2 linked regions of the Homo sapiens genome follow. The protein of the gene in region 1 binds, or shares a complex with, the protein of each later gene. Each region holds a gene or a part of one and is shown on either strand. Other genes may lie near its edges.

Region 1 (7,288 bases):
AAGGACAGAGATAAGCATTAAAAAACAAAACAAAAACCTGTTTTGCTTTCAAGCAAAATTTAAAGGAAATATAAAAGAGTCAGGATTTGGTGGGTTCAAAAATAAAACTGCTTATTGTTTTCAAATAGATTCTCAAATAGAGAAGGGCTTCAAGCCAAAGATCAAATCTAGTGTGTGACCAAAAGATACTTTGAGATCTCAAAAAGATCTAAGGAGGTGCCCCTCAGAGAGTCTTTTTACCTTGAGGAAAAGGCCCTCTAAGAATCATAAGGATGTGTTTCCCAGATTCTATTGAATCAATAAGGTTACTCAGAACATTAAAGGTGTTACCTACAGCAGCCTCACAGGAAGCCCAAAATGGAGAAGGGCTTATCTTGATAAGATGTGTATCATGCATCTAATGAAGAAAATCCCATTAAGATTCACAGGAAACCCACAAACTTGTTGAGAATTGTGTCAATAAAAAACATGCTGGCTTATATTTAAAGTGAAAAAGAGGACAAAATGAAAAGAAGCTTCTAGACAAACTTCTACAGACAGGAAGTAGGCTGTGAAACAATTCAGCTGTAACAGACAACATATTCTGGAAACGGAAGAATAATTCAAGTGTAAAACCAGGAGCCCAAAGGGTAGAACCAAGAGCTGAGGAGAATCATTCCCAAGCAGTAGGACTGAGCTCTCATCAAGGAATTAGAAACATAGGGCCAGCTGAATTTTACACTTGTTATGGAATGGTGACTGCTGTGTGCCTCTTAGTTTCTGCCTTTTTGAATAGGAGTGTCTAGAGTGATTATCCTGTGTCTGTCATACCACCATATGCTGAATGTATGGGGAGCAGATAATTTGTCTCTTTAGTTTACAGGGCTTTAGATCACCAAAAAAAGTGTTTAAGAAGCTATACCCTAGGGACCACATTCAAGATGTCTTATCCATAGTAGGATCTGATTCAGATGACAAGATCTTGTTCCTAATGCTGATGCTTTGATGGCATTAGACTCTGGAGAGTCTTGGAGAAGGTTGTGAGTGGGAGGGATGTGCATGTGGGAGGGATGTCAGTTGGGTCCAGAAGGCTGAGGATAATATCCAAAATTGACTGCAACAATACTTCCTATACCACATGCTGTTCCAGAAACGTGCCCCTCTCCCAACAATAATAAGTTTTATGTACACTTCCCTTAAACAAGGGCAGGCCTTTGTTACTAATTCACTAATAGAAGGCAGTGAAAGTGATGCTCTGTAACTCCTGAGACTAAGACATAAAAAGGATACAGCTTCTACCTAGCTCTGCCTCTTGTCACACTTGCCCTTGGAACCCAGCCACCAAAGTGTATGGAAGTCCAGACACTTAAAGATGCCACAGATGGGTGATCCAGCCAACAGTCCCTGCTGAGGTGTCAGCTGCAGCCAGTATTTACTGCCACACATGAGAGTAAAGAAGACTTGGGGATGACTGTAGACCTAGTAACTATCTGACTGCAACTTCATGAGGGTCTCTGAGCAAAAATTTTCCAGAACTGAGTAAGGCAATAAATACTGTTATTTTACCCCAAGCTCAAGGTGGCCTGTTATGCAGCTGTAACTCATAAGAACAGATCTTTTTAAATTCATGGATTTAAACACTTTTGATGGATTTCAACCATTTGTAATTACTGTCTTTTTGCTCAAATTTTCCTATCTTGGGCCAATGGAAGCCTCTGCAAGTTTAGGGTGTGTATGTGTGTATCTAGCTCTGGCTCTATACTTCCGGCCATCTGCAAATACCTGGTGGCAGGTATTTTTTTTTTCCTCTATGTGACAAAATCCCCTTAACATAAAATTCACCATTCTAACCATTTTAAAATGTACAATTCCACGGTATTTAGTACATCCACGATGTTGTACAACAACCATCACCACTATCTAATCTTAGAACATTTTCATCACCCTAAAAGGAAATCCTATATCCATTAAGCAGTCATCCCCCATTTTCCTCTCTCTCTGGCCCCTGGCAACCACCATGTACTTTCTGTTTCTATGAATCTGCCTGTTTGAGATATTTTGTATAAATGGAATCACACAATGTACATCTTTTTGTCCAGCTTCTTTCACTTAGTGTAATGTTTTCACGATTCATTCACATTGTAACATGTATCACATATGTAGCTTGTACTTCATTCCTTTTTATGGCTGAATCTAATATTTTATCACGTAAATATACCATATTTTGTTTAACCAGTCATCAGTTAATGGACATTTGGGTTGCCTCACCTTTTGGCTGTGAATTGTGAATAATGTTGCTATGAATATTCATCTAAAAGTTTTTGTTTGAACACCTGTTTTTTATTCTTTTGGCAGGGAACTTCAAGGTCATATGGTAATTCTATGTTTAAATTACTGAGACACAGCCAGGCTCAGTCGCTCACGCCTGTAATCCCAGCACTTTGGGAGGCTGAGGCAGGCAGATCACCTGAGGTTGGGAATTCGAGACCAGCCTGACCAACATGGAGAAGCCCCGCGTCTCCAGTAAAAATACAAAATTAGCTGGGCGTGGTGGCGCATGCCTGTAATCCCAGCTACTCGGGAGGCTGAAGCAGGAGAATCCCTTGAACCCAGGAGGTAGAGGTTGCGGTGAGCCGAGATCGCGCCACTGCACTCCAGCCTGGGCAACAAGAGTGAAACTCTGTCTCCAGAAAAAAAAAAAAAAGTTACTGAGACACCACTAAACTATTTTTTCACAGCAGCTGTACCATTTTACATTCCCACTAGCAATGTATGAGGGTTCCAATTTCTCTATACCCTCACCAACATTTGTTATTTTCCATTTTTGTTTTGAGATGGAGTTTTGCTCTTGTCGCCCAGGCTGGAGTGCAATGGCGCAATCTCAGCTCCCTGCAACCTTCGCCTCCCGGGTTCAAGTGATTCTCCTGCCTCAGCCTCCCAAGTAGCTGGGATTACAGGTGTGTACCACCATGCCCGGCTAATTTGTTATTTTCCATTTTTATTATAACCATCTTAGTGGTTGTGAACTGAGTATCTCACGGTTTTAATTTGCATTTCCCTAGTGTCAAAGGATGTTGAGCATCTTTCCATGTGCTTCTTAGCCATCTGTATATCTGCTTTGGATGAATGGCTATTCAAGTCCTTTGCTCATGCATACACATACACGCACACACGCGCACACACACACGCACACAAATACATATATGTATATATGTGGAGACAGCATCTCACTCTGTCACCGAGACTGGAGTGCTGTGGCACCATCATGGTTCACTGCAGCCTCGACCTCACAGGCTCAAGCAATCCTCCCACCTCTCAGCCTACCGAGTAGCTAACACTACAGGTGCATGCCACCACACCCAGCTAATGTTTGTATTTTTTGTAGAGACAGAGTTTCACCATGTTGTCCAGGCTAGTCTTGAACTCCTGCGCTCAAGCGTTCTGCCTGCCTCAGCTTCCCAAAGTGCTGGGATGACAGGCATGAGCCACAGAGCCTGGGCCCTTTGCCTGTATTTTTATTTGGGTAGTCTTTTTTGTTACTGAGTTGCAGGAGTTCCTTACCTAAAAAGAAACACCTCATCAGATATGAGGGTCTAGTATCCAAAATATCTAGTATCCATTAGAATACTTTCATCCTTTTCACTCTCAAGTATCCCTCTGATGCACAAAAATTTAAAATTTTAATGAAGTCCAATTTATCTTTAGTTTCTCTTGTTGCTTGTGCTTTTGGTGTTATAGTTAAGAAACCATTGCCAAACATAAGGTCTGTCTCCAGAGCTCTCTTAAGTACTAAACTATTAACATAAACTAAATATCCTACATTAACACACAAAATATTGGCTACTTTTTTGTCCTGGAATTCCTTTTTATTAATAAGGACCTATGACATAGAAAGGACAACACTGTTTCAAAGCAATCTGTCTAGACATATGTTATAAGGTTAGCCTTGCTGCTTCTAACCCGCAGAAACGTGATATTAAAAAAAAGAGGAAACATATAATTCCCATGTAATGTTCTTTTTTTTTTTGAGATGGAGTCTCGCTGTGACACCCAGGCTGGAGTGCAATGGTGTGATCTCGGCTCACTGCAACCTCCATCTCCTGGGTTTAAGAGATTCTCCTGCCTCAGCCTCCCGGGCAGCTGGGATTACAGGCACCTGCCACCACACCCGGCTAATTTTTGTATTTTTAGTAGAGACGGGGTTTCACCATATTGGCCAGGCTGGTCTTGAACTCCTGACCTCAAGTGTTCCGCCCCATGATTAATGCTGTTACACAGACCATCTGTTCCTTAGCTCTACCAAACTAAAGTGAAGACATAAAGAAACCACAATCTAGCATGACAACCTGGACATGGAGCCTGTAGTATGAGCTGCCTCATGTGAACTCTAACTAGAGGTTCCAGGTTTCCTCCACAGACTGCTGGTTGCTGTCAACTGATAACGTTTTTGTGGATCTTGTCATACATAAGGACTCCTCCCACACAAACGAAAAAGGCACCCATAAGTTAATGGGCAGTTCTACATTTGAAATATAGATTGATATACAACAAATTAACTTTTTCTACTGTTAATTTAAAATAGTTTATAAGAATCATGCATTAAGGTTAAAAAGTATATCCCACAAAAAAATCCAGTAAGTTTTTACATTGAAATTTTACATTTTACATTACAATTTTACATTGAAGCAGCATTACATTTCAGTATAAACATATTCTATTCTAGGAGAACACGTGCTCTTTAGTTATAGAAATGGCAGATACTTATCAGTATGACAAAAGCAGGAACTTGACACTTTAGTTTTCCCTGCACATATGTGAATATATTTTGTATGTTATCACTTCGGTGTAGTAAGTTACGGCGTAAGATGTATTTCAAAATGGTTTGAAGGCTACTGGTCTAGAGATATGAAAAAAGGAACAATGAAGAGGATTCTAGCATGGGTAGAAGCAAACACCTGGCCGCATGATCTACTAAACTACTTTCTAGCACGTGTGGTTGGCTGCCTATCTCTATCACTGAGTAACATAATGTTTCATAATCCTAACAGAAAGAAGGAATTCTAGAAGATGATAGCTCATGTCCACACACAAGTTCAATCCTAAACTAGCTGGGTTATCAAACTTGGTCTTAAGTAAGCTGGAGCGGTTGATCCTCAAGAATAATAATGTTTCTTCTTCTTCTTTCAAGTTATAAGCAGGAAAGACTACTCCATATGTAAATGACCACTTCCAGGTTTGTAGTTTGAGAGAAGGCTAGGCTAGGCGGAAAGCCCATGTCCTCCAAACTCAATGACCACTTCAAAAAGGCTGGGCCTGGTGATGCAGTATTGGGACTAAGAGAAGAAAGATGGTGTTAGGTCTGAGGAATAAAAGAAGAAAACAAAAACAGAGGGACCAGAGTTCTAAAGCACATTTACTGAATACCCACATCTAAGGAATGCAAGGATGATAAGCCCAAACATAAAGAATAAGGCAGATACTGTGTCGGGTGCAGTGACTTAAGCCTGTAATCCCAGCACTTTGGGAGCCCAAGGCGGGCAGATCACGACGTCAGGAGATCGAGACCATCCCGGCTAATATGGTGAAACCCTGTCTCTACTAAAAATACAAAATATTAGCTGGGCACAGTGGCACGTGCCTGCAGTCCCAGTTACTCGAGAGACTGAGGCAGGAGAATTGCTAGAACCCAGGAGGCGGAGGTTGCAGTGAGCCGAGATTGCACCACTGCATTCCAGCCTGGGCAAAGAATAAGGTAGATACTATCTGTGATGGTTCATTTTATGTGTCAACTTGGACTGTGTTTTTGGATGAGATTAACATTTTAATTGGTGAACTAGTGGCCAGGCATGGTGGCTCACTCCTGTAATCCCATCACTTTGGGAGGCAAAGGCGGGTGGATTGCTTGAGCCCAGGAGTTTGAGACCAGCCTGGGTAATATAGCCTGTCTCTACAGAAAAAAAAATACAAAAGTTAGCTGGGTGTGGTGGTGCATGCCTGCAGTCCTAGCTACTCAGGAGGCTGAGGTGGGAGGATGGCTTGAGTCTGGTGGATGGAGGTTGTAGTGAGCTGAGATTGCACCAATGCACTCCAGCCTGGGTGACAGAGCAAGACCCTATCTCAAAAAAAAAAAAAAAAAAATTTGCCCTATAACATGGGTGGGCTTCATTCAATCAGTTGAGGGCTCAAAAACAACAAAAAGCAAGAGGCAATTCTCTAGCAGACTGCCTCCAGACTGAAACTGCACCATCCACTCTCCTGGGTTTCCAGGCTGCTGGCCAGCAGACTGCAACTGCAATATTGGCTGTCCTAGGTCTCCAGTCTGCCAAACCACACAGCAGATTCTGGACTTGCCAGTCTCCATAACTGTGTGAGTAGAGTCCTTACAATAAATCTTTCAGCCAGGCGCGGTGGCTCACGCCTGTAATCCCAGCACTTTGGGAGGCCAAGGTGGGGGGATCACAAGGTCAGGAGATCGAGACTATCCTGGCTAACACGGTGAAACCCCGTCTCTACTAAAAATACAAAAAAAAAAAAAAAAAAAAAATTAGGCGTGGTGGCAGGCGCCTGTAGTCCCAGCTACTTGGGAGGCTGAGGCAGGAGAATGGCATGAACCCGGGAGGCGGAGCTTGCAGTGTGCTGAAATGGCGCCACTGCACTCCAGCCTGGGTGACAGAGCAAGACTCCATCTCAAAAAAAATTAATAAATAAATAATAAATCTTCCTAGGCTGGGCACTATGGCTCACGCCTGTAATCCCAGCACTTTGGGGAGGAGAAGGTGGGGATATTGCTTGAGCCCAGAAGTTCAAAATGAGCTGGAACAACATTGCGAGATCCCATCTCTACTAAAAGTCCAAAACATTGGCTGGGCATGGTGGCATAAGCCTGTAGTCCCAGCTACTCAGGAGGTGAGGTGGGAGGATCGCTTAAGCCCAGGAGATTGAGACTGCAATGAGTTATGATCACACTGCTGTACTCCAGCCTGGGCAACAGAATGAGACCCTATCTCTACACACACACACACACCCTTATTGTTTCTGTTTCTCTGGAGAATCTGAATATATAATCAGAGGTTTGAAAATCTATGGGATGTTTAAAGGGAGGTCACATCCACTTACACAGATTAAGAAAAATTCCACTTTGGGAGGCCGAGGTGGGCATATCACTTGAGCCCAGAAGCTGAAGACCAGCCTGGGAAACATAATGAGACCCCATCTCTAAAAAATCTTTTTAAATTAAAAAAAAATTCATGAACACATTCATTCTTTCATTTATATATGTCATAAACATTCACTGAGCATCTACTTGGAG
Region 2 (7,288 bases), on another chromosome or scaffold:
GACGCCATCTCTAAAAAAAAAAAAAAAAAAAAAAAAAAATCTTTCCTTTTTCTCTATTTTGAAGTAGGGCTTTTCTTTGAGTATTGGTCTCCTGGTTAAAGATCTATAACATCTTTCCAACAGTAAGCCATATCTGTAGTATGTCTTCTACAATTTCCAGATTAGGTTCTTTTAAAATAGAATGAACAGTTAAAAACATTAAAAAAAATTGAGTGCAGAATCCTTTTAGATGTTTATTTCTCCCAGCTGTTATAATTGTCTTGCTCACCTCTAATTTCATAGCAGTTATTTTTTTAGCCATTCACATTTGAGTCTTTACGAAGCATTTAACTTAATTTTCCTAGAAACAATAATTCTTTTTAAACTCATATTTTATCATATTAAGTTACATTTAGACTGTTTAATTATAAGTAAAACTGATGCAGCAACTTGGGGAAAAAAGGAACTTAATAAGCATACTAATCAACTTGTGAAAGATAGTACCTTAGCATATTGGAGAGCACCTGATAGGGATGAATATTCAACATTCTACAAACATCATTTATAATAAATTAAAAAAACATTTTATTAATCAGTCAAGTCTCCTAAAAGAATGTCAGGTGAGAGCTTTTTAGTGTATCTGTGTTTTTCTGAAGGAAAGGGCCTATAGCTTTTAAGAGCTTCTCCAAGGTATCTGTGATATTAAAAAGTTTAAGAAATGATAAGTCTAGAAGGTCCTTTGAAAAACAAAAGACTCACTCCAGTTACTCATCATTTTGAAAATAGACTTCAAGATGGAATTACTCTTCGCTTTTTATAATTTTCCTCACAATATTTTTATTATTAACTTATGTAAAGAGTAGCAAGTAGTCTGTCTTTGAAAGCTATGAAATATCTAGGAATAGACTTACCAAATAATGTTTTAACGCCTGTTTAAAAGAAAAATAAACTATCAAACTTTACTGAAGGGTATTTTTAAATTTTCACAATATTTAATTGATGAATAAAGATTGAATATATTCAAGGTGTACAACATGATGATTTGACATACATATACATTGTGTAATGATTATTACAATCAAATTAACATATCCATCACCACCCATGCAGCACATTATATACCCAGAACTTGTTCATCTTATGACTGAAAGTTTGTACCCTTTGACCAACATCTCATTTACCTCACTGCTATCCCCTGGCAACCTCCATTCTACTCTCTGCTTCTATTCTGCGTATATGTCCAAAAAAAAAAAAAATGAAATCAGTATCTTGAAGAGATATATGCACCTCCATGTTCATTGCAGCATTATTCACAATAGTCAAGATTAGAAACAACCTAAGTGTCTCTCAGTAGATAAAGGGATAAAGATAATTTGGTACATATATACTACAACAGACTGCTATTTAACCATTAAAAACGGAAATTCTGCCATTTGCAATGGCATGGATAACCCAGAGGACATTATACTCAGTGAAATAAGATAGACACAGAAAGACAAATACTGTTTGATCTCACTTATATGTGAAGGATATTTAACAAAAAATCTTGAATGTCTTTGGGCATATATCCTGTTTCTCGATGAAAGACTAAATGTTGAAATACGGCGAGTATTTCAAAGTCTAGAAATTTAATTCAGTTCTTACAAAAGCTCTGGATTTGAATGGAGTGTGACATTCATTCATCTAGTATTTGTTGTCTGTCTACTGTGTATTGGTTACTATAGTATACACAATAAAATAGATCAAGAGGACAAAAGAGAATATCCAAACAATTATATTGAGTATATTTTTGTACACATGAGGGTAGGGGATTGATACGTGGTACAGGTGGCATTTCAGATCAGTGTGTAATGGAAAGGATGGATTTTTTTTTTCCAAGAAATATGTTGGGATAATTGGCTGTTTGTAGAATTACTCAGACCTTTACCAACTATCATGGGAAAACTAATTCTAGGTGGAATACAGATCTAATCATAAACTAGAATACTATAAAAGGTATGAGAAGAAATAAGAGGAATACCTGTTTAATCTTGAGATAGGAACAGCTTTCTTAAGCAAAATACAATCTAGAAGCCATTAAAGAAAAAGTTGACATATTTGACTACATCAAAATTAATACATTTCTGTAGATTACAATATACCATACACAAAGTTAATGGATACATGAAAAACTTGGAAAACTATTTGTAACATATATGACAAAGTACTAATATCCTTCATGTATTAAGAACTCCTGGCCAGGCGTGGTGGCTCATGCCTGTAATCCCAGCACTTTGGGAAGCCGAGGCAGACGGATCACGAGGTCAGGAGATCGAGACCATCCTGGCTAACACGGTGAAACCCCGTCTCTACTAAAAATACAAAAAATTAGCCGGGCATGGTGGCGTGGGTATGGTGGCGTGCGCCTGTAGTCCCAGCTACTCGGGAAGCTGAGACAGGAGAATGGGCATGAATCTGGGAGGCGGAGCTTGCAGTGAGCTGAGATCACGCCACTGTACTCCAGCCTGGGTGACAGAGAGAGACTCCGTCTCAAAAAAAACAAACAAAAAAAAGAACTCCTATAAATCAATGAGCAAAAGATGAATGTGCCCTCTGGGAAAATGAAAAAAGCAGTCTACAAAATAAGAAACATAAATGGCCTAATATATGTAAGATACTTGATTTCATCAACAAATAAATGCAAATTTGAAAAATCATTTAGATATTGGTTTTTAGCCTTTAAATTTGACAAAGATTTAAAAGACTTATAATATCACTGCTGGTAAATAGGGTAGGAAAACAGACATATACTCTTGGTGGTAGTGTAAATTGCTGCAGTATATTGCTGACTTTCTGGAGAGCAACATGGTAATACTGTCAAAAATTAATATGTGTATACGCTTCAGTGCAGAAATTTCAGCTCTAGGAATTTATCCTGAGGAAATACTATAAGGGTTATGGTCCCAGTTGTATGTATAAGGATGCTAATTTCATCATTGCTTATACTTGCCATCTCCCTACCCCCAAAAAGGAAAACAGCCCATATGCTCACCAACGGGATTTGTTAAATCATCGTGCCTCAATAGGGAATTTGTTAAACAAATTGTGGTGCATACATTATAGAATGCTAAACTAAGCAGCAAATTTAAAAAGTAGATCTACGGTATATAAAGTAATATAGAACCGTGCCTTTGAAATACTGTCAAGCTTTTAAAAAAATCATATCTCAGAATAATATGTGTACTGTGATCTCAAGTATTTGAAAAGGAAAACAAACTAAATACATATGTAATTTATTTTAAAATTTAATTGAAAACATAATTGAGATTGTATTGTATAATCTATTCTGTAACTTTTTCAAATTAGTGGTTCATCATGGACTTCCATTCATGCCAGTACATATAGATCTACTTCATCTTTTTTGAAAGATCTGTAAATATTAATATTACATTTGTTTTAAAATTTGTGTATATATAATGTATAGATGAGTAAAAATTGAGGAAGGATATATGTATAACTGTTAACAAAGGTTATATTTGGGGAGGAAGAGGAATTTCTTTATATTAGTATATTACTTAACTTTTCAACTGTAGGTATATACTTAGTAAAAACAATAAAAATATTTCTATTTGAGGATGGAAACATAATTTTTAAAAAATTTATGTTTGTAGAAATTATAATCCTGAAAAATACCTCAAAACATCTTCAAAACTTGAAAAATCAATGGCTGTTGAAATTACTTTAACTAAAATGAACAAAAGCATTGGAGAAGAATAGGAAAAAGAAGAAATCAGAAGTAGATTTTCAAAGAGAAATAGAGATGAATGAAAATAACGGTAACTTTAGGAATTCAGCCAGCATCCTGGCCTCTGCTTGAGTATATTTATCAGTCATTGTTTATTTTACCTTTCTACCAAAAAAGAATATTATTCTTTGGAGGAATTAGTTGATGCCTTTTATTTCTTTATGAATGGAGAAAGCACCATCAAATTTTAAGCAAAAGCATTAACTTTGTAGCATGTTAAAAATCTCATTTTCTCAGTCAGCAGTTTATTATCTCAAACTATATTCCCCAAACTCCTGTTAATAGACACAGTTTTCACTTATATCAAATCACCGTGTTATATACCTTAAATAGATACAATTTTATATATGTCAATCTAATCTCACTAAAGCTGAAAAAAATTAAAAAAATAGACATAGTTTTAAATTTATGTTACAATGTGAATGCAGATTATACATTTCTTATAACCTTTGCATGACACAAAAAATTTTTCATATAAGATTTTAGAAATGGTGCTTTGTGTTATATGATTTAGAGATTTATATCTTTATTGATTCTGACTTGAGTGTTCATATAAAATACCTGACAAATCTAAAATACATTTTTAATTTTAACTTTTAAAAATATGTTATTTGACTTACTTTTTGTTTTAATTAGGTAACAGCAAAAAAGGTATATGCTACAAGCCAGCAAATTTTTGGAGCAGTTAAATCATTGTGGACAAAAAGCAGCAAAGAAGAGTCACTCCCTAAACCTAAAGAAAAAACTAAGGTAGAGTTTACATGGAGCAAGACGGTCAACATTGAGTTTTGTTTGGGTGGGTGTTGGCTTGTAATGAGGGTACTGGACAGAGGTCGAGGATAAAATGAGAAAGTAGATGAAGGAAATAGTAAAATGATTTACTTATGAAGGAAAAATCTGTTTGGTAAACAGCTAGGATCCTCTTCCGAAATAGAAGTACCTGCAAAAACAACTCACGTCTTGAAACACTCAGTGCCCTTGCCAACAGAACTCAGCTCTGAAGCAAAGACCAAATCAGAATCCACTTCAGGTTTGTTGGGTATAAGTCAATTTTGTTTTCATTCTTTTCTTAAATAATTTGATAGCATTATCATTAGTGGTTTGAACTTAAGATGTGTTCTCCCCATAAATATTTTGTCTTTCTCATATCTGTGGTTTCTGTTTCTTTTTAGGTTATGAGGTACTTAAGTATCTGCAATTGCTTTAAATTATCACATAGTTCATAATATAGATCTTTTAATGTGAGTATATAGAGTAACACTGACAGGTTGATTAGGTGAAGCATTTAATATAACTTTATAAATTTGAGCTATTAGGTGGGGGAAAATGGGCCTTTCTAGATTCTGTAATTTTAAAGGGATGAGTCACACCTACATAAAGAAATGTCAGCTTCCATTTTTTGTGCTATTTACCTATCAGTCTCCCTGTCAATCTTAAGACTTTTATTTTTATTAAGTTTAGTTTTACTAAGTTTAGGCACCAAAAGAACTTTCAGCATCAAATATTAGAAATATTATCCATTATAATACTTATAACATTGCTAGTATTCCATACTGGCAATAAACACTTTGTGGGACCAAGCAGTGACAATTATACTTTCTAAACAAATACTGCTGTGATTTTACTGTGATCAAAAAGAAGGTGACAAAGTGTTTAATACCATTTTGACAATGTATTCATATTGATTTGCATAGGTTTATCTATATAGATACCTATATAGATATCTATATAATTACAATGTGAATTATAAAACCCGCTAAGTTGTCTTATTGCAAAGGAAGGTGGCTAATTCAGCGGTTGGGGAATAATAATAATATGCACCCTTTATCGAGCACATACTGTGATGCAGAGAGCTAGAAGTATATTATGTTATTCAGCCCTTACCCACAAAGCAAAACAAAAACCTCTGCTGGATCGGTAATTATTCCCATTTTATGATGAAGAGACTGAGACTCAGGGAGCTAAAATAAGTTGCCCCAAATCATATAGCTTGTGAGTAGCAGAGTTCTGTTTATGGCCTAGATCTTCTTGACATCAAAGTCTAAGTTCTTTCCATTGTCTATAGATTATCTAATTTAAAACTGGAAGTTAGTCTCTAATTTCAGCCTCCTCCTCTCACTTAATCTTCATAAAAACTGTCATTGAATAACAAACATGATATGAGTTTTACTATTTTCCTCTGTCCTCTCTCTTTTCTAATCAAGAGGAGCTATACAGTTTTTAGACTCTGAATAATCTACCAGTGACCATATTCTCACAAGAATATAATGTATGGTCATTTTTCCACATGCCTTTTAATTCCAGAGTATCTTTATGAAGATGAAACATACTACAGCTTAACAGTGGGACCAAAACCTTTCCAAGCTAATGTCTTTTCCTCACACATCTAGATTCTGGAACCCTTTATTTGCCTGTCTTGGGTGATGTGGTATATGAAAAGCATTCTATGGAGACAATGCAGAGGGAGAAAGAGATGCCAGTGCTACTTACTCATTCTTATCATAGATGTCTTGGTCAGTTTGAGCTGCTGTAAAAAATACCATAGACTGGGTGGCTTATAAACAACAGAAATTTATTTCTCACAGTTCTAGAGACTGAAATTCTGAGATCAGGGTGCCAACATGGTCAGGTTCTGGTGAAGACCCTCTTCTGGCTTGTAGACAGCCTACTTCTCATTGTATTCTCACATGGCAGAGAAGAGAGGGAAGCAGGCTCTCTCAAGATTCATAAGGGCACTACTGATCCCATTCACAAAGGCTGTACCCTCATCACTTCCTCTAATTCTAACCACTTCCTAAAGCTCTCCATCTCCTAATACCATCACAATGGGGGAGATAGGGTCTCAACATGTGAATTTTGGGGGGACACCAACACGCAGTACATAACAATATATCATTTGGCGTTTATTATACAGTATAACCTTGGGATTCACCATTTCCACGTTTCATATGTAGAATAAAACATTTTTTTTTTTTTGGCCATGAGAAACAGTAGTGATTGTGAGCACAGGTTATAGAATAAGACTTGAATCGAAATCCCAGATCCAGCATTTACTAGTTCTGTTACCTGGGGCAAGTTATCAAACACCTCAAGCCTCAGTCTCCTCATTCAACAAAAAGGGGACAATAATAGTTCTCACATGGTTGTGAGGATTAAGTGAGATATTGCATGTAAAGCACTAACTGTAATGCCAGGGACATACTAAGGGGTATCAGTGGATATTAAAATATATCATTATTATTATTTGCCTAGAGCAGTTAGCCATTTTGATGAGAAACAGATTTTCATTGAGCATACTTAAAGAGCAAGTCACTTACCTAGTGAGCCTAGCCATGGCTATAACTTATCACCATACAGAACAGGTAGGGTGTACTGTCCAACTATATGTTGTGGCTCTGAATATGAGTTTGGTTGTTCTCTACCATCTCATGTACATTAATGGAGAAAATTGCTATTTTGGGAATCACAAATTTAGAATTTGGTGTCATAGACCTCTTCAAGAATCTGATGAAAGCAGAATGAAAT

Evidence for each region.
Region 2: IMMT (region 1) and APOOL share a complex: the UniProt entries of both Homo sapiens proteins name them as parts of the mitochondrial contact site and cristae organizing system (MICOS) complex.

Annotation. Positions count from the first base shown.
Region 1 is NC_000002.12:86,185,247-86,192,534, forward strand, and holds part of IMMT (MICOS complex subunit MIC60), read right to left. Parts: intron 1-7,288. UniProt on the Homo sapiens protein: Component of the MICOS complex, a large protein complex of the mitochondrial inner membrane that plays crucial roles in the maintenance of crista junctions, inner membrane architecture, and formation of contact sites to the outer membrane.
Region 2 is NC_000023.11:85,069,599-85,076,886, forward strand, and holds part of APOOL (MICOS complex subunit MIC27 precursor), read left to right. Parts: intron 1-4,399; coding exon 4,400-4,513; intron 4,514-4,675; coding exon 4,676-4,793; coding exon of another isoform or gene 4,794-4,802; intron 4,803-7,288. UniProt on the Homo sapiens protein: Component of the MICOS complex, a large protein complex of the mitochondrial inner membrane that plays crucial roles in the maintenance of crista junctions, inner membrane architecture, and formation of contact sites to the outer membrane.